Linked DNA regions of Homo sapiens: all the other regions are linked to region 2. Evidence: fine-mapped expression QTL. A gene starts in region 2. Each other region holds a variant in brackets. All regions are shown on one strand. Distances are from middle to middle. Region 1 overlaps WASF3 (WASP family member 3). Region 2 holds the start of WASF3 (WASP family member 3). Region 3 overlaps WASF3 (WASP family member 3).

What was found. PIP is the estimated chance that this variant, and not a neighbour inherited with it, causes the effect.
Region 1: its variant is fine-mapped to the expression of WASF3 in macrophages after interferon gamma (Alasoo 2018, PIP 0.91).
Region 3: its variant is fine-mapped to the expression of WASF3 in blood mononuclear cells (TOPMed, PIP 0.95).

What each region holds. Positions count from the first base shown.
Region 1 is chr13:26,575,994-26,586,071 of GRCh38, reverse strand. The region is part of intron 1 of WASF3 (WASP family member 3); the gene reads right to left. It also overlaps the pseudogene RPS3AP44. Among named protein-coding and RNA genes, the nearest start is that of WASF3, 23 kb to the right of the region's middle. The variant AG/G (reference allele first, on the strand shown) is at 5,445.
Region 2 is chr13:26,551,561-26,561,638 of GRCh38, reverse strand. WASF3 (WASP family member 3) reads right to left here and starts at 3,956. Exons shown (of 10, transcript NM_006646.6): 1 at 3,820-3,956. RefSeq lists silencers at 3,853-4,062, 4,323-4,382.
Region 3 is chr13:26,613,400-26,623,477 of GRCh38, reverse strand. All of the region lies in intron 2 of WASF3 (WASP family member 3), which reads right to left. Among named protein-coding and RNA genes, the nearest start is that of WASF3, 61 kb to the right of the region's middle. The variant T/C (reference allele first, on the strand shown) is at 4,486.

The sequences.
Region 1 (10,078 bases), 24 kb before region 2:
ATAATTCTATCCACAAACCCAGGGTTCTGTGACACCCAAGTACAGCACTCTATTCCATGCAATCCCAAATCACTGGAAAGGAAGCTTTTAATACAGTAAAAATCAAGTCATCTAACAGAATCCATGATGATAGCCTTAAACCTTTCTTTCCTAGGCCTATGAGGTAAGTTTTCTACAGCACCATCCTCAGCTATTACCTCCACTCACATTAGAAACTGTCAGCCACACAGCAAGGCAAGGGCTTTTATTATGCATTTGGGGGGTTTATAGTTTAATTTCAGCAGAAGATAGAGCAAAGCAATACAAGTCAAAAGGTTTTTCTAGGTAAGACCATTATATGGTTTTTCTAGGTAAGACCATTATATGGTCTTACCATCAACATGCAGGTTCAGCAGTGAACACTTATCAAATTTATAACATCAACAGAGATTCCTGAGCCCCTACTATATGAAAGGCATTATGCCAAACCTGAGATGAAGAACAGTCTTCTGCCTTCCAGAGGCTTACAATCTAACTTAGTCAAAGAGACCATGAGGTAGGGACATCTGCTTACCAACTAGCAGTAACACAGAATTATACTTCAGTCTTCAAATCTCTCCATATGACTGAGTATAGTAAAATTATAGTTATTTAACTTATCATTATTAAGGAAAGCACAGCTAACCATATGATTTTTCTCAAAGCAAGTGTGTAGGCATACCTAAGTGATTCAACCCAAAACCTGAAAGCACTAACGTAACAGCATATCAGCTCAGTGAGGGACTCCATCCACAAGATAATTAATGTAAACAGCTGCTGTTTACATTTGGATCTTTAGTTCTATACCATCTGGATTTCCATCATTTTTATTTCCCTTTATCCATAGCTGGTATTTCTCCAAGTTCTTGTCAATTTGTTCTTCCTTTTTGACACAAAATATTATTTATTACAACTATAAATTGGCTTTCTTCATCTCAGTCCACTTTTTTTTTTTTTACATTTTTCTTTCTTTTTGCATTCCACAGTATTGCTTGGGAAAATGATATTATTTATGGCATGGTGAAAGCTGAGTCAGGCAGGGATCTGCCACCTCACTATTTTCCTTCCAGATGATGGAATGCTGGCTGTATTCTTCCACTCCCTTAACTATTTAGTTAGCATGAGTTATCAGAACTATCAGCAGAGTAACAACAGCTTTCATATTTTAATTTACAAAGAAGACTTTGAAACACACAATAAGGACTTTCTGTAAGGTCAATCTATAGGGCAATACTGACTTTGCAAGAAATTCCAAAACTGCTTGTCACGTATATGCCTTCAACACACAACCACGAGCAACTAAAATTTCTGAATAATTATCTCACATCCTTTCTTTGCTGCATGTTTCCTAGATAACTGAACATAAAACTGAGGAATGCTTTACAAATTCCTTATTTTAACTTACAGAAATAATTAAACTCAAGACAAATCATCTTTTACCTCGTAATTACAAAGAAATGACTGAAATTACAAGTCAACTCCAATAAGCCATCCTTAATAAATTTCTATAATACTAGTAATTCCGCTGGTTAACGACCAGAACTCTCAATAAAGTGCAGTGCGTTTACCAATACAGATTAACAGAGACCATATAGTCTTCATTTCAAATCCTAGAACTAGTTTCCACAAAAATTGTGTTCACTGCATAGCACTGGAAATTAAGGTCACCTTTTTACTTTACAAATAAGCACCTTAGAGAAGAAGTCTTAGTATTTCCCAGGAATTAAAAAGACACTCTTTCACATTTGCCACAGTCAGGAATTTTCATAACCTTGAGATGGTTCATCTCTGTTCCAGCAGAAACCACTAGTCATCCAGCAAAAGCACCAAGAAAAGGAAAATGTTCACCATTCTGTTAATTTACTGGTCCCTTGCAACTAAGTGATTAATCTATGATGAGAGGGAAGAGAGAAAGAGGTACCTGGAAGGAAGAGTCTTTGTTAGATGCTTGTTTGATCTCCATAATCCTGCAAAACCAATTGCGTATCTTTTTCCCCTCCAGGGAGGTGGGGGAGGTACCACTTAGAAGTTAGGGGGTTAAGTAAACATTACAGGAAGTCACAGGTCCAATGCACTGAGCCCAAACACACTTCACTGAATTGAGTTTTCAGAACCTTTTTAAGTGGATCACATCTGTGGTAAGCCATTTCAGCTTCTGCACTGCAAACCTTTTTGGGCTACTTGAGTGGCAACCACACTTCTGACTCCTGTTACTATCTGCCGCTGCTGTAGCTATTTGAAGAGACTGAAACAGGCTTTAGGTAGCCTCCTGATCACAAAGCAAACTCCAACAAAGCTAGAGTGGCTTCAAAAGATGGTCGAAGCTAAAAGAAGTGGGAAAAGGATGTTCTAGAAATGAAATACAGAGGGTAAAGTACAAACACCATAGCAGAGTGTGCTCAGGGTCATTCTTCTGAAAAATGGTTCAAAGAAATAACAAGTAATATAATCAAATTCATAATTTAAAAAAATTTTCAATGAAATAAGGAATTTTCAATGAAAGACACTACCTAGCAGAAAATAACTCCTACTTGGGCTTAAGGAGCCTTCGACTCTTAGCTTCACCCCCACTTCTGCCTACTCTAATTATGAACTACTCTGCATCTTTAAGTATTTCCATTTTGAGTAAAAACAAAATAATAAACACTATAGGAGAAGGAGCCCTAGACTAGAATCAGGATTTCTTGAACCAGCTTTACTGTTCACTTGCCATTTGTGACTATAAGAACCTTTCCGTTTCTTAACCATTACGGAAAATAATTGTTTTTTCTGTCCTTGCTTGCTCCCTTTGGAACTTGTCCCCATGTGACCAGTGTCATCTGAATAATAAGCCACCTTATGGTGTTGTATACATCAAATGAGATCACATAACTAAAGACACTTAACCCATAAATCATTATGCAAACATGTACTCTTATCAAAAGTGATAGATGCTATCCACAGTAACTGTCCAAACTGCTTTACCATGGCTATTGCTATCTTTCCACTAAGACCCTAGGCTTCAAATTACCACTTTAGCATTAATTTCTTTCTGCCCCCATTTTAAGCATCCATAGAGGTGCCTGTCATTATCTTTCTTATTGACTAATTATTCTCTCAAGGTATCTATCCTATTAGAATATATGTTAATAGCTGGAAAAAGAGACCTACATTGTTTTTGCCCTCTCTTCCAAGGTATGGTCTCAGAACACACATACAGATCTGAAGGTTTCTTAGGGATTTTCTCTCTATTGCTGCTTTCTTTACTCTGCCAGTTACTGGGAAATTTTCTATTCTCGGTACAGTACTAAGCACTTTATTATTTACATTCTCTTACTTAAGTATACTCTTTAAGTACAACACTGTGAGGTAGGCTTTTTTTTTTTTTTTTTTTTTTTGAGACGGAGTCTCACTCGGTCACCCAGGCTAGAGTGTAGTGGTATGATCTCGGCTCACTGCAACCTCCACCTCCCGGGTTCAAGCAATTCTCCTGCCTCAGCCTCCCGAGTAACTGGGACTACAGGTGCACACCACCACACCTAGCTAATTTTTTGTATTTTAGTAGAGACAGGGTTTTCACTGTGTTGCCCAGGCTGTTCTCGAACTCCTGAGCTCAGGCAATCCGCCCACCTCGGCCTCCCAAAGTGCTAGGATTACAGGTGTGAGCCACCGTGCCCGGCCCGGCTTTCTTTTTTAGATTAGGAAATCAAGGATCACAGAAGTTAAGAAATGTCCCCGAATCACACAGCTAATAAACAACAGAGTCAAGATTTGAACACAAATCAGTCTGGCCCCAAAGCCCCTGCTCCTGACCTGTCCCATCAGGTCTTAGAGGCAACAGAGCATCCAGTCCAGAGCCTGAAACCTACACAAGGGTGTAGGTATAGTCAGGAACCATCCGTATGTAATTGCATTTATGTATAACCTACTTTGTTCAGAAAGCAAGATAACATTTATTGGAAGTGAAAAAGAAGTATCAAATGAGTTAGAAATCAGACTCATGCAAAGACTCATCCTTTTAAATCCTATACACTGGCTTACAGTGAACCATAAATTTGGTTCAAGAACTTCTAAAGAGGAAGCTCATCGATTATAGAATTTACTGTCTATAAACCACAAATCTATCAAATACTCAAGGAATGTTCCTTCATTCCTGACTCTAAAACCTGAAAATAATTTCAGCAAACATAGTTAAGTCCATACCTGGTAACATTCTATGCCAAAGCAAAGGCTGAAGAATCACTTTATTTTCCTCTGTATTTGATACTCCAAATGATGCCTTCTATTCTGATCATATCAAAGCCTAGTTTATAGCAAATAACTGTCAAGGAAAGACTCTCTAGTAGGCGCTAATTTTTTAAAAAAGCCAAGAGACTCTGATAGCTTTCCACTCATACTTATTTGGGATCCCTTCCCCTTAAAAGCAGTGGTTTTGTAACTTTTTTTTTTAAAGCAGAACCTTTCTTAAAATAAAACTTTAATCAAAACACTAAACAACTAAAAGGGAGTTGCTCTGATTGGAACAAAAGTGAAAGTTTTCCCACTGATTTCTGTGGGGAAATAGATCAAAATGCCTTGCTCAACTCAAACTTTTCTGGATTTCTATTCATTCAACTGTTAAAAAAAAAAAAAATTGGCTGGCCTAGGTTAACTCCTCAGATTACTACTTCAGAAATTCTGTTAACTTAAATTTAAATGAAATTTGCAAAATCTTCTGAGGATAGTCAGATTAATCAAATTCTATTCAACTTAGGAAAAGACACCACATTCCATCCATTCACATATGGTTTCCTCATTTTATCACAACCGATACTTTCAAAATAATCTTAAAAAAAAGAAATTTGACCAGGTATAGTGGCTCACACCTATAATCCCAGCATTTTGGGAGGCCAAGACAGGCAGATCACTTGAGCTCAAGAGTTCAAGACCAGCCTGGGCAACATGGCAAAACCCCATCTCTTCTAAAAATACAAAAAATTAGCCAGGCATGGTGGTACATGCCTGTAATCCCAGCTACTCAGGAGGCTGAGGTGGGGGGATCAACTGATCCCAGAAGTCAAGCTTGCAGTGAGCCAAGATTGTACCACTGCACCCCAGCTTGGGTGACAGGAGTGTGACCTTGCCTTAAAAAAAAAAAAAAAAGAAATTTATGCTGGGTGCAGTGGCTCACGCCTGTAATCCCAACACTTTGGGAGGCCGAGCTGGGCAGATCACCTGAGGTCGGGAGCTCGAGACCAACCTGACCAACATGGAGAAACTCCATCTCTACTAAAAATATAAAATTAGCCGGGTGTGGTGGCACACGCCTGTAATCCCAGCTACTCGGGAGGCTGAGGCAGAAGAATCGCTTGAACCCGGGAGGCGGAGGTTGAGGTGAGCCGAGATCGTGCCATCGCACTCCAGTCTGAGCAACAAGAGCAAAAACTCTGTCTCAAAAAAAAAAAAAA[AG/G]AAAGAAAAAAGAAATTTCAAAACTACCAGAAATAATTTGACCTGAGAATTAGGCAGCCCCCAAAATAAAACCAAAATATCAACAAGCAACAAAAAATAACATATGAAATCCAATACTTCAGGAATAATATTTGAATGCTAATTGGACCTACAAAAGAAATATTAATCTAATGCTTGTCGAGTTTTAGACAAAGCCCATGGAAAGTTTAGCACCATTCATTCAGGTGTTTCTGAAAAACAACTGAACATCTTGAGAGAAGCAGAAAACTGTATGTGTTTTAAGTTATATTATCCTACAGCACTTCTGACAAAAGAAAACCACAAAAGCCAACTTTTGGACGTATTCATATTAATAAGATTCTATCCTAATATTCTAAAAGGTAAAAGTTGGAGATTTTTTTAATGAAAGATAATGGAAAGCAAAAAAATGCACAGTAAGAATTGTCTTAATTACTGGAAATGCAGGCACCTCTAATTTTCAATATCTAAGGCAGGGGTGTCCAATCTTTTGGCTTCCCTGGGCCACACTGGAAGAAGAATTGTCTTGGGCCACACATAAAATACACTAACACTAACACTAAAGACAGCTAATGAGCTAAAAATAAGTAAATAATAAATAAATCACAAAAAAATCTTGTAATGTTCTAAGAAAATTTACAAATTTGTGTTGGGCTGCATTCAAAGCCATTCTGGGCCACATGCAGCCCATGGGCCATAGGTTGGACAAGCTTGATTTAAGGTTTCAGAAATACAATCATCCTAGAAAGCATCTTCAGCATGATTCAGTTTTGCTTTCTCTGAGCTCATTTATTCATTTCCCTTGCCAGTTCATTCATTTCTGATGACCAAGCATAATCAGTGCTCACACCAAACACCAGGAGCGCCATTTCCTGGTTTTAAAAAAAGGGTAAACACAAGGGTCTATATCATGCTGAACACTGGGTGAGGGGGTCCAGGGGGCTGTTACAGAGAGAATCATGTTGTTTATTTTTTCTCTTTCAGGAATTCACTGAAACAAACAAAAAACAAAATAGTAAACTAGGCAAAGTGACAATGTAGATGAGATACCATTATACCTGCAAAACAACCCAAAAAGTAAATGTCTTTTCAGTAAAAGAATGCCACTACTTTCAACCTTACTTCCTATCCTTGGCACTTCAGCTTAACATGTGTCTAGAACCAGACTACCCACCTATATATTTCATGGACTATTAAAATATTTGAATGTATGTGTCTGCTATCCAAAATTAACTAATGGTAAGCAAAAAATAATAATTACTATAATTAATTTGTTAATAATAGTCATCACTATCTTTCCCCTTCTCTAGGCTTGGGTATTTACTTTTGTATTTTAATCTAGTTTCTCTCTCCTTAAGGCAAGAGGACCACTTGAAGCCAGGGGTTCAAGACCAGCCTCAGCAGCATAGTGAGACCCCATCTTTAAAAAAAAACTTAAAAAATTCGCTGGTCCTAGTGGCACACACCAGTAGTCCAAGCTACTCAGGAGGCTGAGGTGGGAGGCTCACCTGAGCCCGGAGTTTGGGGTTACAGTGAGCTATGATTGCACCACTGCTCTCCAGCCTGTGCAACAGAGCAAGACCCTGACCCACAAAAAAAAAAAAAAAAAAAAAAAGGAAATGTATCCCAAGAATATAAGGTTAGCTTAATCTCCAAAAATCAATATAATAACTACTATCATAAAGGACAAAATCACATGATCATCTCAATAGAAAAAGCATTTCCCAAAATCCAATATCCATTCATGACTGTTGATTTGTTAAAGAAAAGATGTTAAATGATATCAAGAACAATACAGTATGTGTGTCTCAATGGAGACACAATGAGGAAGCTAAGGCAAAATACATGAAACGAAAGAAGTTTATTACTCATAGGTCCCAGAGAGGTTAGAGTGCCAAACAGAGACAGACAGGAGGTCCTGAGACAGGAGAGGGAAGGAGCAGGAGGGAGAGGGAGAAAGAAGAACTGTGGAACTACACCTTTAAGGGACATTATTCCTTATGCTTTCCTTCTTGTGAATTGGTTAAAGAAAACAAATGTGAATGGGAACTTATTCACATGACTTCTGAGGCTGACCATTAGGTTTTACTGTGATCGGCAGCTCATGGTGTGTTGCATTTTGGGTCAGTGAGATGAGGCACAAGTAGGCCATATTGCAAACAACTGCAGGGAGGGGAAGTTCTAACTAGGCCAAAGGTGACAGGGCATGACTGAATTACGAACAATTTATGTTAGGCCTAAAATGAATGCTAAGGTAGCAACTTTATTAAACTTATCACAGTGATTAAAAACTCCTAGACTTAGAAGAAAAATTTTTCAACCTGGTAAGTCGTCTACAAGAAAACAACTAAAATCACACTTAATGTTGAAGGACTGAATGCTTTCCCCCTGAAATCAGGAACAAGGGAGGAATATCTAATCTTATAATTTCTACGCAATATTCTAAAGGAAGTTCTATCCAGTGCAATAAGGCAGGAGGAAAGAAAAGAAGGGGGGAAAGGAGGAGAAAGTATCTAGATTGGAAAAGAGGTAAAATTGTCTTGCTAGTCAATTTCATGATTACCACATTTTATGATCCTATACATAAAAAAAAGTCTAAGGAATCCACAATAAAACTACTAGAATTAAAAGACAAATTCAACAAAGTCACATGATACAAATTAATATAAAGAAATCAACTGTAGTGACTACAAAGAGGAAACCTAAGGGAGTTCCTCTGTGCTGATGGAACAGTTCTGTAACTTGATGTGGTAGTGATTACATGAACCTATACACATGATTAAATTGCACAGAACACACAACTGAGTGCATGTATAAACTAGTGAAATCTGAATAAGGTCTGCAGATTGTACCAATGTCAATTTCCTGGTTTTGATTTTTTTTTTTCCACAAATAGGACTTTTTACTTGCCATTATTATAAGTCTGAACTTTAAACAGATTCTTGGACTGGTGGTTCATATCCATCAGCTCATTCAACTTTAGCACCTGTCTTGCTCCCAGTGGCTTTTCCAGAACTACTGCCTTCACCATGAAGCTCCATGAGTTTTCCCAATTCAAACTTGGGCTTCTTCAGCATTTTTACTTTTCTAACGAAGACATCATGGAGAGGATAAATGGATTGGCAAGTCTTTTCTATGTCTTTTCCAATGCTGTCTGGAATCAATTTATTGACCACTTCTTTCAAGTCATTTTTCTGCACCTCCCGGGTCTTGATTTCCATCATATTCTTCCGGATTTGGCGGACCTGTTGGTGCTGAGCATAAAAGGTTTTCCATATCGGATTGTTACATTGTTTTTAGGAAAACCAACACAGAACAGACAAAGCAAGTAACCATCGGTAGTCCTGACATCAACATGAGCTTTAATCACTGTCTGCCATTTTTTGACCATGGAACACATTTTGTCACAGGTAAGATCCATGCCAAGGAAGTTAGGAAGTTTTTGCCCTGAACATCTTCAGTAATCAGCTTGAATTTTCTAAATGCAATCTCATCTTTCTGCAAATCAGCAAGACTCACTTCAAACACATGACCCTTGAGGCCATCAGATGCAATTTTGTTTCCTTGGGTCCTGGTGACTAGCATCTTTCCAATATTCCTTATATTGAACACAGAAGGTGCTTTCACATCATACCACTCTTTCTTAGAAAATGGATCAACCACTTTCTTCTTGGCTCCCTTTTTGCCTCCTTTCGTAAGGCGTTTGTTCTTGCCAACAGCCATGGTGCTGCTCAGAGAGCCAAAAGGGCGGTTTTGATATTATACTATAGTTACGTAGGATGTTACCACTGGAGGAAGCTGGGTAAAGAATACATAGAACCTCTGTGAACTATTTTTGCATTTCCAATGAGTCTATTATTGTTCCACAATAAAGTTATTTTTAAAGTTAACTGTAATTCTACATACTAACAACAAACTATGAAAAATGAATATGATCTTCAGATGACTCTTCTCTGAAAACTTGGGAACCACTGACTTAGACCTTTTTTGAGATAGTAAGTACATAAGTTACATAAGCACATGATGTACCACACTCCAAACTATATCTCAGTGAAGTTCCTAAACATTACAATCTCCTGGCTATCATTTAAAATATTCAAAGCCCACGTACCACTTCAGACCACTGCAATTTCTGAGGCTAGGTCAAAGGCCTCAGTACTTCTGAAATTCCCCACGTAAACCACTACTGTATGATGCAACAATTCTCAAATTTATGTTCCAGGACCTCTTACAGTTCAAGACCCCAAAGAAGAGTAAAAATAGAAAAGGAAAAAAAAAGAAAGTAATGAAACAGGAGTGGCTTGAACCCAGGAAAGAAACAAAAGAAAGAAAAAGTCATAGTAGAGAAGGAATTAAGATGTCCAAGGGAGAATAATAGATTCAAATGAAAATTTTACAAAGGGCATTGAGGAAAAGTAGAAAAACAACCATAAGAAAGTGAAATTTAAAAAGAAGTATAAAGGGTCAAAGTTGAAGTGAATAAAACAAATTAGGCAAAGAGGGTCAAATATTTATATAATTAGAAATACATATACCTCCAAGATACATATACATCAAACTCTGGAAGAAGATATTCAAAACACTAAAACAGAATATTTAAAATAATACTCTAAAA
Region 2 (10,078 bases):
TAGCACCTTAGCTGATAGTTTGGGAAACTCTCAAACTGTTTGAGACAGTCTGGGACAGCTAATAACTCTCACATGCGTCTCTCTAATCCAGACAACTCCTGATTATCTGGATCCCTAGTGCAGCCAACTGAACACACTGTCCCCTCAGCACCTGAAACTTAACCCAGCCAAGTGTGACCCATAATCTTTTCCCCAAAATGGATGCTGCTCTGTCCCCACCTAAGGACAGTGCCATCACCCAACCACCCAGCCAGAGCTGGACACTGCCCTGAACTCCTCCCTGCCCCAACTCCCCCCACCACATACACACACACGGCCAATGACCAAATCCCAGCAATTCTACCTCCTCAAATTTCCCTGCTTCAAGCCTTCCCTCTTCTAATCCATTCTCCAAAGGGCAAATTTGACCGTGTCCCTCTTTTGCTTACAATTCTTCAACCATTTCCTGTTGCCCACAGAGGTCTCCGAACTCCACACAACAGTAATCACAAGACCCCACAAGGCACAGTCCCTCCTTACTTCTCCTCCCTCACTTCTTGCCACTTCCCTGCCCTTGCCCACAACCACCCCCACTGGACTGAACTCCTGGTGTTTGTGGTTGCTCCAGTGCATCACCTCCCTGACCATCTCTCTGTACACCCTCTCCTCAACCCAGACTTCGACCAATTCCTTCTCATGGTGCTTCCTCTGGGAGGCTTTCCTGTCTCTCTGAACGTCCCTAAGCTTGGGTTTATGGTCCTCCTCTGAGCTCTTGTTGCTGGCCCCTTTCAGATCCCATATCAAACAATACATTGTAACCAACGGTTAAAACTCTTTGAGACTGAACTGCACAGCAAGCTCATCGGGGGCTGACAGAGGTATCTGTCTTGTTTATCTCTGTATCCCCGGCACATATTAAAACTCTGAAGTGTACTGAATGAATAAAGCAAATGAATGAATGGATTAGGTCATGCATGAGGCTCCTACATCCCTCACTGATTACTGACTCTATCATGGTACTTATCACACTGCACTGTAATTGCTTGTCCTGGTAGACTATGAACATCTTGAAAGCGTCTGTCTCTTATTTTTGCAACCCTAGTGATTAAAATAGTACCTGGTACCTAGTAGGCATTCATGAAATGGTTTTTTTAACATACAGGGTTATATATTTCATCTACAGTATTAAATGGAAAAAATCCAGAAGGATACACCCTATATTATGGTTACCTCTGAAGAAAGAAATAGGAATAGGACAACAATAAGACGGGAAAAAGAAAACTTAAGACTTTTTACCTCTATAAATCTCTGTGTTGATATTGTTTATTTTATAATGTACATCATTTATGTATTACTGGCATAAAATATTTCTGTATTACCAGCATAAAGTCAAGCCACAGGTAAAGAACCAGCCCTGAAGAAGAATGTGTGGGGCTGTCAGAAGCATTTAGTTCCACATGCCCAAGAGCAAAGCCAAAAAAAGCCTGACTTGAAAGAAACAGGGCCCTTAAAACGGACTGAGAAGAGAAGTTGAGAGATTCGGCCGGGAGCGGTGGCTCACGCCTGTAATCCCAGCATTTTGGGAGGCCGAGGTGGGCGGATCAACCTGAGGTCAGGAGTTCGAGACCAATCTGTCCAACATGGTGAAACTGCATCTCTACTAAAAGTACAAAAATTAGCCGGGCATGGTGGCGGGCGCCTGTACTCCCAGCTACTCGGGAGTCTGAGGCAGGAGAATCGCTTGAACCCAGGAGGCGGAGGTTGCAGTGAGCCGAGATCACACCACTGCACTCCAGTCTGGGAGACAAGAGCAAGACTCCGTCTCAAAAAAAAAAAAAAAAAAAAAAAAAAGAAAGAAAGAAAGAAAGAAAAGAAAAGAAAAAGAGATTCAAGGTCTACAGCAATGGAGAGCCACCCAAAGTGAAAAACAATCTGGGAGTACTCTTCAAAGAAAGTCCTTGGAATTCCAAAGACGATCACTAGTACTAGCCCGTGAGTAGGGACAATTCATTTAATACTTGCATTATAACGCAATTGTTTTAATCAAAACATCCCAATAACCAAAAGGTTACCTGCCATACATAGGTTTCTATGGGAACCGTAACGTGTGACTACAAAGACACACTGACAAGAGATAGGAGGTTACAATGTTGGCATGACCACTTAGCAAAGTGTGTTCCACCTTTGTTTTCGTAATTGTTGAAGATAGTGAAGCACATCATTGACTATTAGGTTGTAAATTTTAAAGCAAACAGATTTTTTAAAAACAAATGCTATTAAGCAACTTCATGTCAGCCAACTGGAAATGCAAGAACAATTTCTATATGTACATAGTTCTAGAATAAGCACAGGTTGGAAGGTAAATATAATAGTTGACCAAACTTTCCAATATTTAAACATGTGAAAAGACACAGCTTTTGTGAATACCAACTAAGAAAATCTTTCAAGATGAAGAAAAATGAGTACTACACTGAAGTCATTAGAACCCTGGGAGAAGGGAGCTGGAGAGGACACAATGAGAATGCCTTTGGGAAAGGTCAAACCCAGCTTTCGTTTGTTTAACCTCTCAAGCAGATAAAAGAACTAGCTTTAAAGAACCACTGCATTGTTTAACTGCTAGAAAAGGAGAGTTGGGTAAAGCACATATAAAAAGAAGCAATAGAATTTGCCCTAGAGACAATAGAAAGATTAGTCAATTACAATACTTTGAACTTAGTTTTGATAGAGTCGCATTTTAAGCTTTAGATAAACCTAATTTTTAAGATGCAAAATATTTCAAATAGCTATCCTCTCCCCCTTATAAAAAGTAGACTCTGAATCTTAAAATACCATGTTCTGCTATGCATTTAATTTGAAGAACTGCGAAAAGTAGTCTTTTTAATTTTCAGTTTTTGAAAACTCGAGACTGTTGCTGGAAGTAAACCGCTAATTTAAAAATTAACCTTAAAATGAGAAAGAATTCCTATGATGCTCCCATTGATCCCTAAGCCCATCACATAGTTTCTGAATAATTAAGAACTCTCGTCTCCACCAGGGAACTCTCCCTTGCAGAGGGGCCAAATCAAGAAGCAATCGCCATTGCACGTCAGCACCACAAACTGAGAGGAAGCTTCTGCCCTCGCTAAAGCCCAGGCGCGCGGGTAAAGACCCCCGGGGATGATACCCCGCGCGCCGCGGCTCCGTGCGCGCGGTCCCCCGCACTCGCGGGCCGCCCCACCTCCTCCCCTGCACTCCAAGAGTCCGGCCTGGTCTCCGAGGCCGGGAGCCACGCGGCACCGCAGCCTCGAGGGAGAGGACGCCCGCAACCAACACGCACGCGGGCACCAAGAGGGCACAGGCCAGGGCGGCGAGGGCCGAATGGGGCCGGGGGGCACGCGGAGCTGGACCAGAACCAGCGAGGGCGCGCAGACACTGAACGGATGCGAAGGTCCCGGACGCGGAGCGGCCCGGGGCGTCGTGCGTGGGGCGCGAGCGGAGGCCCGGGCGCCACTTACGGCGGGGAGGGCGGGTGGCTGTCCCGAGTCCAGGGAGCGCGCACCGGACGGCAAAGGGCCGGAGGCCCGGAGGCGCGGGAGAGAAGGGCCGCCTGGCCGCGCCGTGACGGCGAGAAGCCCCTGCCAGCGCGGGAGCCGGCCGGGAGAATGCGGCCGGGCTGCAGGGATAGGCGCGAGGCGGCGCCGCAGCCCGCAGTGGGCCCCGCCGCCCGGCCGGAGCGCGCGGCGATGCAGCAACTTCAGTTCGCCGTGGGGCCGCCCCTCCCCCGACAGCCGCCCGGCCCGGAGCCGAGAGGGCCACAGCAGCCTACAGCGGAGAGCCGGGGCGACCGCAGCCCTCACTCACCGGTCCGCGGTCCCGCCGCCGGCGCCGGGGCTGCGCTCTGAGCTCCATGGTCCCGCCGCGCCGCGGCCGCCCGGCGCACCCGCCTCGCACCACACCGCACGCAGCGGCGCGAGCGACGCCGCCTCCGGCCCGTCCACGGCCGCGGCCACGCCCCCTCCCGGCGGGGGGGCTCGGCCGGAGCAGGAGGGGGGCTCAGTGCCGGCTCCACCAACCAGGGCCAACTCACGGGGCCGCTTCACCAGGATTGGCGAGTGCCTCGGCCAATAGGGAGCCGGCGAGCGCGCTGAGCGACGGTGCCGAGGGGCGGGGGATTGCGGAGGCGGTGGCTCTCACCCTTGGTCCTCCGCCCCCAGCTCGGGATGAGGCTTAGGCAGCGTCCTTTCCAGCGAGGAGAGGTGGGGATACTTCGGGCCAAGAGACCCTTGTATCACCTCTGATTGCTAGGTGCCCATTACAGTACCTTTGAGTTTGCGCTTATATCCTAATCCTCCCTGGGTGTTGAGGGCTCCTGCACAGAGGTCCTCTACCTGTAAGGTGTCAGACGTCCTCCAGGGCTGAGGCTTCAGGCAACCCTGAGAGGACTGTAGCCCTGTTCATGGGTTGGTTTTATGCCCTGCTCAAATTCGTTAGCATTCTTAAAATCTTCCCATCTCCTTCAACACAGATTCTTCTGTTTTTATCACCCTATAACCAATCTCTCTCCACCCTAGATGTGAGGAAATCCACAATACTTATTAAAACTAAGATATCCCTGAAACTGCCAGCTAAGCCCTGCCACAGTGGAACATAGCCACGTGCGACCAGATGACTGAGGCATAAACAAACTTAAGAAAAAGAAAGGAGGAAAGGAAAGGAAGAGAAGAAAAGATAGAAAAGCCAAGATAGAAAAGCTAGGTCACAAAGGAAAGGGGTTTAAAAACATCTAATAGAAATGTTACCTTTATTTTAATTTGCATGCCTTTATTCTTTTTATTTACCAATAGGATCACTAAATTGAAAAACTTTTAGGAAAAAATTTTAAATTCTAATGAATAGTTCAAGAAACACTAATTCAAGTTGGTTTGCTCTTTTCTTTACAGATGTGTAATAATGATCAACATCTAGCTAGAGACAACTAAAAGTTGGAAAAAATGAATAGCAGTTAATAATTTCACCAAAGTTTGCAACACCAGAAATGCAGTAGAAAAATCATGCAGCCCTCTTCATAAAATGTCTAATCTATTAACCTGCATTACTTCCAAAGGAGGGATTTTAAAAGCTCTTTTTAAAGATGACGTATATTCAGTTTCCATAAAGTGCCATCATTTTAAAAAATTGCTGGTAATTAACAAGGTAAACAGGATTTTGGTGAATAATTACAGTGACCCAGTATTTTAAATATTGATACTAGAGTGACAAATGTCTGCTGAATTGAAAGCTAAATTGGCATTCAAATTAAAATGACTTTCCTTCATTTCATCTTCACTTACCCAGGGGAATGGCTTCCATGTCTATGTTTAGGTCATTAATTTAGAACTCAAAAATATGAAAGTATAGATACCCAGAGTGTTTTCAAGGTTGCTAATCATATTTCCCTGGCTGCTTCCCTCTTCGGTGACCCCAGCCTTATAAACCGCTGCTACACTTAGTTTGCACTCACTGTTAGCCCTTAAACACATCATCCCAAAGTGTTCAGGTTTGTTTCATATAGGTCAGTCTTACCTCTCTAATTAGATCATCAGTTCCATGAGGATAAGGCCCTTATTTTACAGTCCTCTTTCCTCCTTTTATAATGCCTAGTACAGTGCTGAGCATGTGGTAAATATGATTCTATTCCTAGTGTTGTGGTTCATGGTACAAATAAATTATTTCAAATATGGTCTTGTGTGAACCAGTCCTTTAAATAAAAACTGCTTAGAGCAGTCTTGTTAGAGGATTAGAGCCCACCGCTAATAAGTGCCTCATCCTTAATAAAATGTTGCTGCATCAGGGAGTGAATTGGTGACCTGTAACAGAATCTTGACTAAAAGTGCCTACTAAATAGGAGTGCTTCTTATCACAAAACCAGAAACCTGGAGACAGCCACAGGGCTTCTGTAATATCTCTTCTATGGTGTCGTTGTGTCTCAGGCTCTTTCTAGCCATTGTCTCTGCTATCCTTGTCATGTGATCTCTGTCTTCATCCTCACAGGATGCCTGCTTCCCTTGTAAGCATTGCATCACATTGAGGAAAATGGTAGGGGGATGGGTAAAGGGCAAAAGATCAAAGAGGTGCATGCCCAGTTGGGTCTGCATCTTCCTGGGAAGCTTTACCCAGCACCTTCTGCTTGCATTTTATTGGCCAGCCACATGTCACATGACCACCTTTAGCTGCAAAGGAGTCTGAAATGCTAAGTATTTAAAGTTGGGGCATTGGCTGGAGGAATATTAGAGTTTTGTTAGTAATGGAAAAGAGGAATGCAGACCTTGGGTATGAGAGTGGCAGTACCTGATGTAGTTGCTGAATAAATGAATTCATGATTGAGCCCTCACTCTATTTATTCATAAGACCCACTTTTTTAAAAAGGCCACTCAGGTGTCAATTAAAAAACAATCCAATTTTCAAGTGAGCAAAAGATCTAAACAGACACCTCCCTAAAGTGGAGTTGACAATACACAGATGGCAAATAAACATGCTCAATATCATGTGTCATTAAGGAATTGCAAATTAAAACAAAAATGAAATACTATGACATACCTACTAGGATGGCTAAAATAAAAAAGCTAACGGCAACAACAACAAAAAACCTAAGGATACCAAATACTGGCAAGGATACAAAACAACAGGAATGCCCATCCATTGCCGATGGGAATGCAAAATGGTACGACCACTTTGGAAGACAGTCTGGCAGTTTCTCACAAAGCTAAGCATAGTCTCACAATTCAGTCCAGCCATCACACTCCTAGGTATTTACCCAATTGTGCTGAAAACATGCCCACACAAAAACTTGTACCCGAATGTTTATTCATAATCACGAGACCCTGGAAGAATCAAAGATGTCCCTCACAAGGTGAATGAATAAACAAATTGCAGTACATCCATACAATTGAATGTTATTTCATGATAAAAAGAAATGAGCTATCAAGCCATACAAAGACATGGAGGAAACTTAAATGCATATAGCTAAATGAGAAAAGTCAGTCTGAGAAGGCTACAGACTGTATGATTCTAAGTATATTCATTCTGGAAAAGGCAGTAGGAACCATAGTTAACAGAATAAAAAGAAAGTTTCGTTTCTTAAAATTTTTTAAGCAAGGTCACCTTTGCTGTATTTATGGACCTTTATTGCAGTCACAAATTCTATTGTCCTTCAACTATTGGTAAATCTTTTTTAAAAGTTCTTTATCATTGTACCTTTTAAGAAGTTTTTGGGCTATGTGCAGTGGCTCACACCTGTAATCCCAGCACTTTCGGAGGCCAAGGCAGGAGACTTGCTTGAGGTCAGGAATTTGAGACCAGCCTGGGCAATATAGTGAGATTCCCATCTTTGCAAAAACTAAAAGAATTAGCCAAGAGTGGTGGCATATGCCTGTAGTCCCAGCCACTCAGAAGGAGGCTAAGGCAGGAGTGTCGCTTCAGCCTAGGAGTTGGAGGCTGCAGTGAGCTGTGCTCACACCATTGCAATCCAGCCTGTGTGACAGAGTAAGACTCTGTCAAAGAAAGAAAGAAAGAAAGAAAGAAAGAAAGAAAGAAAGAAAGAAAGAAGGAAGGAAGGAAGGAAGGAAGGAAGGAAGGAAGGAAGGAAGGAAGGAAGGAAGGAAAGAAAGAGAAAGAAGGAAGGAAGGGAAGGAAAGGAAAGGAAAAGAAAAGAAAAGAAAAAGTTTTGGGGAGGTTTTCCTGACTTTTTATATTAAAATTTTTCCAATGTAAAGAAAAATTGAAAGAATGGTAGAAGGAACACCCATATACCTTTATCCAATTACACAAGGCCACATTTGCTCCATCAGTCTCTCTCTCTGTCTCTCCATAATTTTTTTTTTTTTTTGAGATGGAGTCTCGCTCTGTCGCCCAGGCTGGAGTGCAGTGGCGTGATCTCGGCTCACTGCAAGCTCCGCCTCCTGGGTTCACACCATTCTCCTGCCTCAGCCTCCCAAGTAGCTGGGACTACAGGCGCCCGCCACCACAACTGGCTAATTTTTTGTATTTTTATTAGAGACGGCGTTTCACTGTGTTAGCCAGGATGGTCTCGATCTCCTGACCTCATGATCCGCCCGCCTCGGCCTCCCAAAGTGCTAGGATTACAGGCGTGAGCCACCGTGCCCGGCCTCTCCATTATTTTTTAGCTGAACCACTTGTAGACAAATTGCAAACACCAAGATACTCTACCTTAAATACTTCAGCATATATCTCCAAAATAAAAATGTCTGGATCATTCTAGTGTACAAGCAGAGCCGTGCATAGCCTATAAAATGGAACCGTGGAGACTCGATACCTGTAACTCCTCCAGACTCCGTTACTACCCCCTCCCAACTTTTTCTCTGTAAATATTTGACCAACCTGGTATACGATGCTGGTATTATACTGAAGTACAGTAAAATAAAATCTAGCAGCAGGGAAACTGGTGACAAGGTATTGTGGTCAAGAGAATACTGGTGATGCAAGTGACTGTCAGTGTTCTGTGAAATCCCGTGCATGCAGCGTGTAGTGAAGCCAGTCCGGGGCCCACAGGGCAGTGAGATGCAGCTGTCTAGCATTACGATAACTGAACAGCTCTCAAGCATATTCCTAATAAGAATATGCTTCACAACTATTTTTAAAACCTCTTGAATTGTGCCATCTTTGTTCTTTGCCTGGTCAAAATCTTGGATATATTTCTAAAGTCAAAATGTAGGCAGCTTAGGCATCCTCTTAATTTGAATCTGATAGTGATGACACAGTGACTTTCTCAAGACACTTAATAAATTAGGTATTCCCTCAGTGATTTGCTTAATTCTCTTTTGTCATCACTAAGTCTTTAGTGGAAAAACAATTGTCATTCTTTTTACTTAATAACATGTCATCTTACATAAAAATTACAAACTGCTTTGCATTAGGAACTGAGTTCAATCTCACTTTGCGGAAGAGAAAGAACAAAGAGTGGTTACTAATTAAAAGAATATAATTAGAATATGTAAGAAATCAAATTTTAAAAGCATAATAACTGTCATTTTTGACATGCTCATTTGTACTTGTTCTCAGAATGAAGTAAAATAATGACTACAAATACCTCAGTTCTCAAGAATTAATTTAGCTCCATATATAAATCTTTATAAACATACTTCACTTACCCGAGCTTTCTTCTGAAGGATAGTATTTATTTTCATCTTGACATAGAGTGAAATAAATACATACATATCCATATCTACGTCTCAAAGAATAAAATATTTGCTGGAAACATGGCTATATCTTAAATTTTAATATTAACCCAATTATCTCATCAGAGCAAGGCAGTATATTGATATTAACTTTATTTTGAGGTGAGGAAAATTATGAGAAGGTAAAAATAACAAACATTTGTTGAGAATGCTCTATGTGCAGTATGCTGTATTTGTTGTATTTAACCTTCATAACATCTATTGGATATGTGGTCTGTTGCCCATTTTATAGATAAGGCCCAGAGAAATTGTCTTTTTCCCCCAAGGTAACCCAGCCAAGACTCACTGATATTTTCACAGACAAGCTGTTTTTCCAATGAACATGGAGAGCCCTAGAAGTTGCTATTCTTGCTAAGTGAAACAGCAGAGTAATGTGTGCACAATATTCTGAGAAGCACATGGCCAATACTTCCCTCAAATCTATCCCTGCCTCTCCTTTCCCATTCCCACAACCCAAGCTGAGTTCACCACCATCCCTTTTTGTGCTGTGACAATATTTCTAACACATTTCCCTTGGTTTTTCCTTCACTGTGTCTTCACGCTATTTTATGAGCAATTTTTAAAATGTAGATCTGATAGCATCTCTATGCTGCTCAAAAACCGTCAGAGTCTCCCACTGTCTACAGGATAAGTCAAATAAAGCCCTTAAAAATAATCCAGCTACCAGATTTCCTGAAGCATCCTGCACCACTAGCATTCGCCCTACATGCCCTGGGCTTTCTGTCTGAATACCCCTCCTGCCCTTCCTCACCTGGGAAGCTCAACTTTCACAACGCAGCTCAAATTCACCTCTCTGGAGCCTTCCTGGGCACAGTTACCTACACCAGCCTCTGTACTCTCCTTGCACTCCTTCACATGGCTTTATTGCCACGGTTAATTCATTGTCC
Region 3 (10,078 bases), 62 kb before region 2:
GATCTTGCTGGTCACAGGGCAGGAAAGAGGGTTTCCTAAACCTCTGCCAGAAATAGATCTTTGCTGAGTCCTATGGGCTAGAGGTTTCATTGCCCTCCTGGGAACTCTGTCATAGGAGAGAAGGCTGTGGGGAAGCAGGTGTTACATCATGCCTGTCTCCCAGTGGCAGCTGAGATTACCTCCCGCAGAGCAGCACGATCAAAAGAGGTTCTGTCTAGTCTCCAGGCTTGCTCATAAGCTTTCTTAAGAGTACCCAGTGGAGGGCTGTAGAAAACAGCTTATGAGTAAGTGTAACCTTCCCCTTGTATCTGGGGTACCTGGTTATCCTAAACTGATGCATTAGCCCATACTCAACCTTAAGAATGCATTACAATTTTTGCTGAATTCTTCTTATGCACTTCTATGATGGTTACCTGTTCCCCCTGTGCTCTGCTAAATGTGAAACAGTTCAAGTGTCCTGTCTACTCTCAGATGGGTTTGTCACCCTTTGGGATTTAAGAAAAGTTATTGCTTTCTAGATAATCTGGCCTTTTTTGTTTCTTAAAATAGAAGCAATGTTCTCTTATATCCTAATTGGAAGAGAAACTCCACCTTCACAGTAAGAACAAGGGTAACATATCAGCTTCTTCTTTTGTTAAGACATTGAGCTGATAACTATTTTCACAAAAAAAGAAAGAAACAGTAAACAGATTTTTTTTTTTTTGAGACGGAGTCTCGCTTTGTCTCCCAAGCTGCAGTGCACTGGTGCGATCTTGGCTCACTGCAACCTCCATCTCCCGGGTTCAAGTGATTCTTCTTCCTCAGTTTCCCGAGTAGCTGGGATTACAAGCACCCACCACCACGTCCAGCTAAGTAAACTGATATTCTCAATGAGTGAACATATGAGTACACTCTTAAGAATTTATGTGTGCAGACCCCAAAGAGAGCAGACTATTCTGGAAAGAAAAGAACACCACCACTACTCTATTAACATGGATAACAGCTTTCATGCATAGAATACACTGTAATGGGGCAAATAAACTGAAGCCCACAACTGTGGTCATTCTCCACCGCAGTAAGGGTTCATGGGATGTAGAGTAACATGTTAACTGCATTAAGTCTTTATTACATATTTTAAAACGATATTACTGGTAGGTAGAGGTAGTTGACTATACAAAATTAACTGAATAGATTTTGTAGTGGATTTCTTTCTCCACTATGCAGCCATTAAAGACTGACCTTTGAGCTTTCAGAACAACCAGTTTGCAGAACCTGACAGTGTTAATGATTCTCTCTTCTATGTGCTGGTAACCTTTGCTCTGATTGCTGCATGCCAGGTAATTAGAGCACAGTGCATGATAGCACTAAAACATGTGGCACAGACTATATTATACACACAAAACTAAATGTGTGTATACTGCAGATGTTGGGCTTTTTAACCATGTTTTACTTGTATGTATGAGTTTTGCCCTCGGAATGAAAGTGACCCAAGCAAAAGTAGCCAGGGCCCATAGAGTAGAGTGACACAATGCTGGCCCAAGCCCTTCCTCTGACCTTTCCCCTCAGTGTGGCCTTCTCATTTTGAAGGACAAGGGCTATGTCTGCCTGCCTCCACTTTACAGCACTCTGCTTGGAGTTAAGTGCCTACTGACAACTCCCAAAAGATACTCACTAACATAACATTCCCACCGCCAAAGGAAGGGCCTCAGCTTCCTAAACTCCTCACTTCGCACACTGCCTTCTAGAGCCACACTGCTTCTTTTTAAAGCTTTATTAAAAGTTGTGATTTAGGGGGAGGGAAGGAAGAAAGACCACATAAAATTCAATCAACCTCATTTCACTGGGACAAATGTTCACACTTTGCTCTTTGAAATGTGGTCTGTATGTTTCCACAGGATGGGAGACAGAGAGGTACAGTGAAGCAGCAAAGGACTAGGAATTGGGGAACTGGGGTTCTAGTCCAAGTTCTGCCACTAACACTACACGACTCTGTGCAAGTTTCTTCATCAGGGTGGGCCTCAGTTTCTTCATCAGGGTGGGCCTCAGTTTCTTCTCCTGCAGAACAGATTTGCTCTCTTGGGTTCCCTCCAGCTCTGGCATACTTTCCTTTTCAGTTAGACATTCAGCTGGCTTTCAGAAACTACCATATCAGATTCACCTACTCTCCAAACATTCAGTGTGTTTTCATGATGCTTTAGCTAGTGGAAATGCAAAAACTGAACAAACGAAAATAAAACAAACCCCATTCCTCAAGATGCTAATGGTTTAGTGGCAGAGACAGGCATATAAATAAAGTTACAACACAGTGTGATAAGCACTACATTAAAGGTATGTCTCATTCCTGGAAATTAAAACGCAACTAGAAATACTCCATTCTCAGTGGGGAATGGGAGATGACACGGCATCACAGACCCCCCAGCATCCTGCTCAGCATCGGGAAGCTATTCAACAGACGTTTGAGGATGGAAGAGTGAAGCTCTCACTCAAGGCTTAGAAGCAGCATTCCACCATTTTAAAACGTCACTTAGCTTTTGCTATACAGCCTCAACAACTAAATAATAAGTCTCCCAGAAAAAGGCAACTTTGTGTCTATGGAATAATGTAATGAAAAACCTTGTCAAGTACCTATTTTTAGAGGACATTCTGGGACACAGTTTGTCTTTCAAGGGCCACAAAATGGCATATAAAGATCCTCCAGGTAGAAGCTAATATGGTTCTAACTGAAAAGGTAGGGATTTGAAGTCTAGGTCAAGATTTCTCTCCACCAGGGTTTTCACCATTAGCTCCTGTCTTGCAGTTTCTCTGTTGTGGGAAGAAATCTCGGAGTAAAAGTGAAGAACAACGTATCATGGGTGGGGATACAGAAGTGGTGTGGGAGCCTGTGAAGATCAAGCCTTTGGTCTCCCTGCCTTTCTCTTCTAGCCATGGACAGGGTAAAGGGAGCTCTGAAAAAAGCTGCTGTTCTACAACTTGCCACGCTCTACATATCTATGCTTCAATTAATCTTTATGCTCTGTGTTATGTTCATTTAATTCAGACTTTTTAAAGTTAAATAAATCACTAAATTCCTATTAGATAAAAAATATTTTTAAAATATACCCATATTTTATTTCTAAGTCCTTTTAGACCATGGTGTTCATTTAACTAGATACTCAGAACATGTGGGATTCAAGAATACATTTAATATTTGAACCTACATCTGTTTTATAGTCCTTTATTGTGCATAAAAATTTATTCTGATGCACATTATTAACCCAGGAACCTCCGAGATGCTTTGACCAGGAACTATTTTTCTTCCCTGTTTTGATCAGCCAGACAAAATCAGCTACTTAATAAAAAAAATTTTAAGATAAATGGAACCTTGGAGATCTAGCATAACTTTATTTTACAATCAAAGATTAAGACAAAGAGACCCAAAATCTCCTACATCCTGGAGTAGACACTAGAATCTCGGTCTCTCACTTCCACTGGTGCTCTGCCCACCACATCCCCATTGTAAACGCTTCCTACAGGTCCCAATTATAAATATGCCAGTAAGCCAAGGCTACTTCATTTCTGTGTCTTACCAGGATAAAAAGGCAGCCAAGGAGGGGAAAGTTGTCTGCTTTGGTATTCAAGTAATCCTTGACTTCTAATATGATGCTTCTATTCATTCTCTTTCCCTCTATCCCAGCAGGTCCCTCCCCATTCTTAACCCTCTAAGCACCTGATCATTTGTCATTAAGAGTCAGCTCTGACCAAAAAGGAAGGAGGTGGTTTACATTTCCAAGGTTCCTTTTATATCAGATTTTATTATCTTATTAAACAGATGGTTTTGTCTGGTCCTTCAACTCCTGACACTGCCTTGTTGCTGATTGCATGCATAAGCTTCAGACCCCCTATCTTACTCTGTTTTGTATTTTTGATATACATGACTTTTTATAACATGACTAACCTTTGGTTAACCACTGAGTTGACCCAGATATTTGTATCCACCCCACTTCCCCAGCCAAGGATGTGATCCATCCGCATCTCTGCAGACCATGATTCAGTACGACATCTGGTAAGTCAAATTCCATTTGATGTCTGCCAGGAAGCTGTGTGCATAAGACTAGAATATATACCCAGCCTCCAAGGAGACTTACAGAAATGCTGCTGTGGGTAAACTAAGGAAAACAGCAGTTTAAGGTGACATTTCAGACAAGGAAGAACAACAATCTCCATTTCCTTGATTTGGGATTAAATGTAATCTACTTTCCATTTAAGGCTGCAGCATATGCTAAGCATATTTCTCCATTAAAATGAGACACTTATAAGCAGGTTGTGTATGGCATGTATGTGCATAACCTTAGCTCATTCATAGGAAATCCTTTCAAAAATTATATAATTTGAAATGGAAGATTATAGAAATAGAATATAATAAACAGAGCACCTAGACTAGGCTTCTCCTTTGTTTCAAACCCACAGAAATGATGAAAAAGATGTACATTTAAAATATGTGCAACAATACTACAGGACTACAAATGA[T/C]AGATAACCTCCAAAGTTGAAAGGCAACGGGATGAGATTAAAGGAAGAAACCACAAGCCAAAAATATGACAGGAAGGACTGTGGCCACGAGATGTGTGGTTGGAGAACCACAATGAAAAGATCTTGGCAATTTACACCAGAGAAATACAAATGGCAGCCAACCATCAAATTGTCCTTTGAAAGAATTATATCTAATAAAACTAGGAATATGCATACTATGGACCCTAGCATTTCCATCTCTTATTCTGAGAAACATTCTCACTTGTGCACAGAATTCATGTACAAGAATGTTCACAGCAGCACTGTTTGACATAGAGATAAACTGGAAATGACTACCAATAGGGGAAAGGCAGCTGTTAAAAGAAACAAGATAAATATATATATGGAGTGTCCTCCAAAACATAGCAGTGAATGAAAAATACAAAGTTCATAATTACAGTATGCCATTTAGTAAAAAGTACTATGTAGTCCTACATGTATGAAAGAGACGGGGGGGCGGAGGTGGGGGAGACGGTGGGGAGAGAGAGAGAGCGAGAGAGTGTGTGTCAGAGAAGGAAATGTCTCAAATTCATAATAATGAATTTATTATTCTAAGGGAGGAGGAACAGAGCTGAGACTCAAAAGGTACTTTAATTGCAAATGTGTTGCAAGTTTTTAAAAGACGTATATATTCAGGTGTTATCTGCATGATCAATATTTTGATTTCGTACAAACAACTAGAAGATACTGGATATATAAATAACAAACCATTACAGGAAAAAATTGTAATAAAGTCAGCAATGGACAAGAAAGTATTAATTTTTTTAACAAAAAGGAGGCACTAATAGTGACTATGGCCTTCCAAATAATCACAGTAAGTGTTAATGGGTGAACTCACTATTAATGGCTAAGACTTCATATTCGTCTGTTTTCACACTGCTAAAAAGATACTCCCAAGACTGGGTAATTTAGAAGGGAAAGAGGTTTAATTGAATCACAGTTTCACGTGGCTGGGGAGGCCTCAGGAAACTTACCAACATGGCGGAGGGCAAAGGGGAAGCAAGGCACCTTCTTCACAAGGCAGCCGGAGGGAGAATGAATGCAGGAGGAACTACCAAACACTTAAAAAATCATCAGATCTCATGAGAATTCACTATCACAAGAACATCATGGGGGAGACTGCCCCCATGATTCAATTACCTCCACCTGGTCTCTCCCTTGACACGTAGGGATTATGGGGACTACAACTCAACATGAGATTTTGGGTGGGAACACAGCCAAACCACTTATAGAATGTGCCATGCACTGTCAAGAATTTTACATATATTAGCTCATTTAATTCTTATAAAATGAGATAGAAACTATTAATATTTCCATTGTATAGGGAAGAAACAGGCACTAATATTTAAGTAAACTTGACAGACACCACACAGCCAGTTTATGCAGTGCCTGAATTCAACCCCAGGCAGCCTGGACTCAGTCCATGTCCTTACCACTCACCAAACAGCCTCCACTGAACAAAGCAGCAACACACTGAGTTGTTTGGGTTTTGTAAGATAAATATTCAAGAATACATCTAAAATGAAATAACTAGGAGTGATAAAAATAAAGAGATTAAAAATATACACCAGGCAAATGCTAACAACAAAAGGGAGTCAGGCTCTAAGACACAAGAGAAACTCAAGGTGAACGCAACAAAAACAGATGGAGGGGAAGACACTTATCATATTCAATTGGTAAAAAAAAAACACTAAAAATGACAATTATGAACTTTTATTATCCTTTTGTAGAAGACCCAACATACTTTTCTCAGAAACCAACAAAGACCAAGATTTGAATAATACAATTAACAAGTGTTAATTGATAGTTTTTAAAAATGTTATACATAGATGTGAGAATGCATATTTAAAAAAGAAAACACGGAAAAGTTGTAAGAAAAAAAGCTATGAATTAGGTCACACAAAAAAGTTAACTGCAATCACACAGAAAATTACAATCACACAGTAAGCACAATACAATTCAATCAGAAATGAACATGTAAAAATCAAGGGATGTTGGTGAATTGTCGCCAGCATTTTCATCATTGAATCTGAATCTGGCCCTGTTCTGGCTTCTGACCTTGTAGTACTTCAGGTGAGGCCTTTGACTACACCCCAGGGACAACGAGTCAATACTGATGACAATTGGAATGGCAGATCTCCAACCTCCAGAAATAAAGAGCTGACCATCCCAGCCATGCAAACATATTCACTAATTAGGGGTCTTCTGTCCTGCACAGCTATTGACTCATGTACAGCCCCCCAAAAAGAGAATACAAACTAAGTGCCCTGCCAGAAAATGGAAGAAAAGGAAGATGACAAAGAGTAACTACTTTTATGGGAGTTGGGGAAAGTGCAAAAAATAAAACCAAAAAATAATCCCATATTGGCTCCCAAAAATTTCATTCTGGGGTAAAAAGGAAAAAAAATGCTATTAAAATGAATAAAACTACAAATCATATATCTGATAAAGATCTGATACAGAATATATAAAGAATTCTTGAAAATCTATAATAAAGTACCCAATTTCTTAAAATGGGCACAAGATTTGAACAGACACTTCACTAAAGAAGTTATGCAGATGGCAAGCAAGCACATGAAAAATGCTCAACAGCATTAGTCATTAAGGAGAGGCAAATTAAAACCGCAGGAGATATGACTGCACACTGATGAGAATGGCTAAACTTAAAAAGACTGTTCATACAGAGTGCTTATGAGAACATGGATGAACTGGAACTATCATCCACTGCTCAAGAGAAACAAAATAATCTTTGGAAAATGGTTTGCAAGTTTCTTAAAAAGTTAAACATACACTTATCACACGATCCAGCCATTCTACTCCTAGATATTTACCCAAAATAAATAAAAGCATGTGCCCACATAAAGACTTGTATATGAATGTTCATGCAGCTTTATTTGTAACAGCCAAAAACTAGAAACAATCCAAGTGTCCATTAGCAGGTGAATGGACAAACAAACTGCATTACATCCATACAGTGAGGTACTATTCAATGATAACATGGAATGAACTACTGATACATGCAACAACAAGAGATGAATCTCTATGCTGAATGAAAGCCAGACGAAAATACTACATACTGTATTATTCCATTTACATAACATTCTAGGAAATATAAACTTATCTATAGGGACAGAAAGCAGAGCAGCCGTTATGTGAGGGTAGGAGGGAAACAAAAGGGAAAAATGACCAAGGGCCATGAGGAAACAACGGTCACCAGTTCAACTACATTGATGGTATCATGGGTGTATACATATTTCAAATAACTTATCAAATTATACATTTTAAATAAGCATAGTTTACTGTATGTCAATTATTCCACAATAAAGCAGTTTAAAAATGAATCTGTGGGCTGGGCACAGTGGCTCACACTTGTAATCCCAGCACTTCGGGAGGCAGAGGCAGGGGGATCACAAGGTCAGGAGATCGAGACCATCCTGGCCAACATGGTGAAACCCTGTCTCTATTAAAAATACAAAAATTAGCTGGACATGGTGGCACATGCCTGTAACCCCAGCTACTCGGGAGGCTGAGGCAGGAGAATCGCTTGAACCAGGGAGTCAGAGGTTGCAGTGAGCCGAGATTATACCACTGCCTGCCAGCCTGGTGACAGAGCGAGACTCCGTCTCAAAAAAAAATCAAAACAAAAACAAAAACCAAAAAAAACAAATCTGTGGCAACAGATAATCTGAGTATGACAAAGTAGGAGATCACTGAACATTTATTTAATATGTACATTCTAACATGAAGGTCAAGTAAAAATAAGTCGACTGTTAGCCACACACAGGACTAAATATCATGATAAAAGAAATGAGACAGGAAAGACACATTTAGCAACCAGATAGACATAGCTCCAAAACGGTACTTAAAAAAAGGCCACCTCTGATGGGCATAATACAAACACCAACGGAAATGCCTAAGAAAAAGCACTCCTCCTAGAGAATTCCCTCATCCAACAGAATCTGCCTCACCAAGCTAATCAGAGTGTGCCACCTACAACAACAGTCTGAACACAGACAGCGCTTCTACAAAAAGCCTGGAAATGCAGCACAGCAGCAAAACAAGCAGATGGCGTGGCAAGCAGAAGCCCCGAGTTCTTCAAGAGCTGAGACCTCCATAAGCCTCAAGTCCTTATTCTAAATATGAAAGCAGTAATATCTGCCTGGTTATCTCAAAAGGCTGTGGTGAGATGACACACCTGAAAGCCCCCCAAAAACTATAAAGTGGAACACAAATACTAGACAGTATCCGTGTTAAAAAATAAATGCTTGCCTGACAAAAAAATTTAACTATCTCCCCTTTTCATATAAATTGGATAGGAAGTGAAAGAAACCATTTATCAGAACTACAATCAGCCTGTAACCCATCATGACATACAGGAAAAGCCCAAAAGCTATTTAACTTTTATTTTCTAATATAAGCATTTAACACTATAAATTTCCCCTTAAAGTAGTGCTTTAGGTGCATCGCATATATTTTGATACGTTACGCTTTCCTTTTCATTCAATTCAAAGTATTTTGCCTTGTAAGCTCCTCTTTAACCATGGATTTTCAGGCTGTGATCATTAATTTCAAAATATTTTGGAATTTCTTGGGTATGTGATACTGATTTCTAGCTTAATTAAACTTGGTCAGAGAACACAGATACATTCCTGAAAAATTACCTGTAAAGTGAAAGTATGGAAATCAAGTTCAATTTTCCTATGGTAAATTAATATGTAATGATATGCCCAAGGTCAAGGCAAGCTAGGATTAGAGATCAATCTTCCAGCTTCTAATTCTGGTATAATAGCCTTTCTTCTACCTTATGTTCTCTTTCAATATCATCTTAAAACCAAAAGACGTGTTATTCTCTCCCTATCCTTCCAAAAGAAAAAAGAAAGAAAGAAAAGGAAAATTCCATATACATCCTCTCATTTGATTTTTACAGTTTCATAAATCAGGCAAGACAGATGATAGTATTCTGCATATGAGGAAAGTGAAGCTCAAAGAAATAACTTGCCCTACTAGTCTGCTATGTCTCATTGCTCCTCAATTACCCCTTAAAATTAGAGTAAGACAGGTCACTGAAATCCATAAATAATTCAAAAACCTCATTTTAGCCACTATCACGATCACCACCACCTCAGTTCAGAGTAAATTATTGTAAAACTGACTAGGTTTGCTTTTGGTTTTTTGAGGTTTTCTTGAGATGGAGTCTCACTCTGTCGCCAGGCTGGAGTGCAGTGGCACGATCTCGGCTCACTGCAAGCTCCGCCTTCTGGGTTCACACCATTCTCGGGCCTCAGCCTCCCAAGCAGCTGGAATTACAGGCACATGCCACCACACCCGACTAATTGTTGTGTGTTTTTAGTAGAGATGGGCTTTCACTGTGTTAGCCAGGATGGTCGCGATCTCCTGACCTCATGATCCACCCACCTCGGCCTCCCAAAATGCTGGGATTACAGGCATGAGCCACCGTGTCCGGCCAACTGATTAGGTTTAAGTTTTTAAATCTTGACTTCTCATACCCATTCATTACTAGAAAGATTCAGATAACAAAGAATTGGTTAAATTC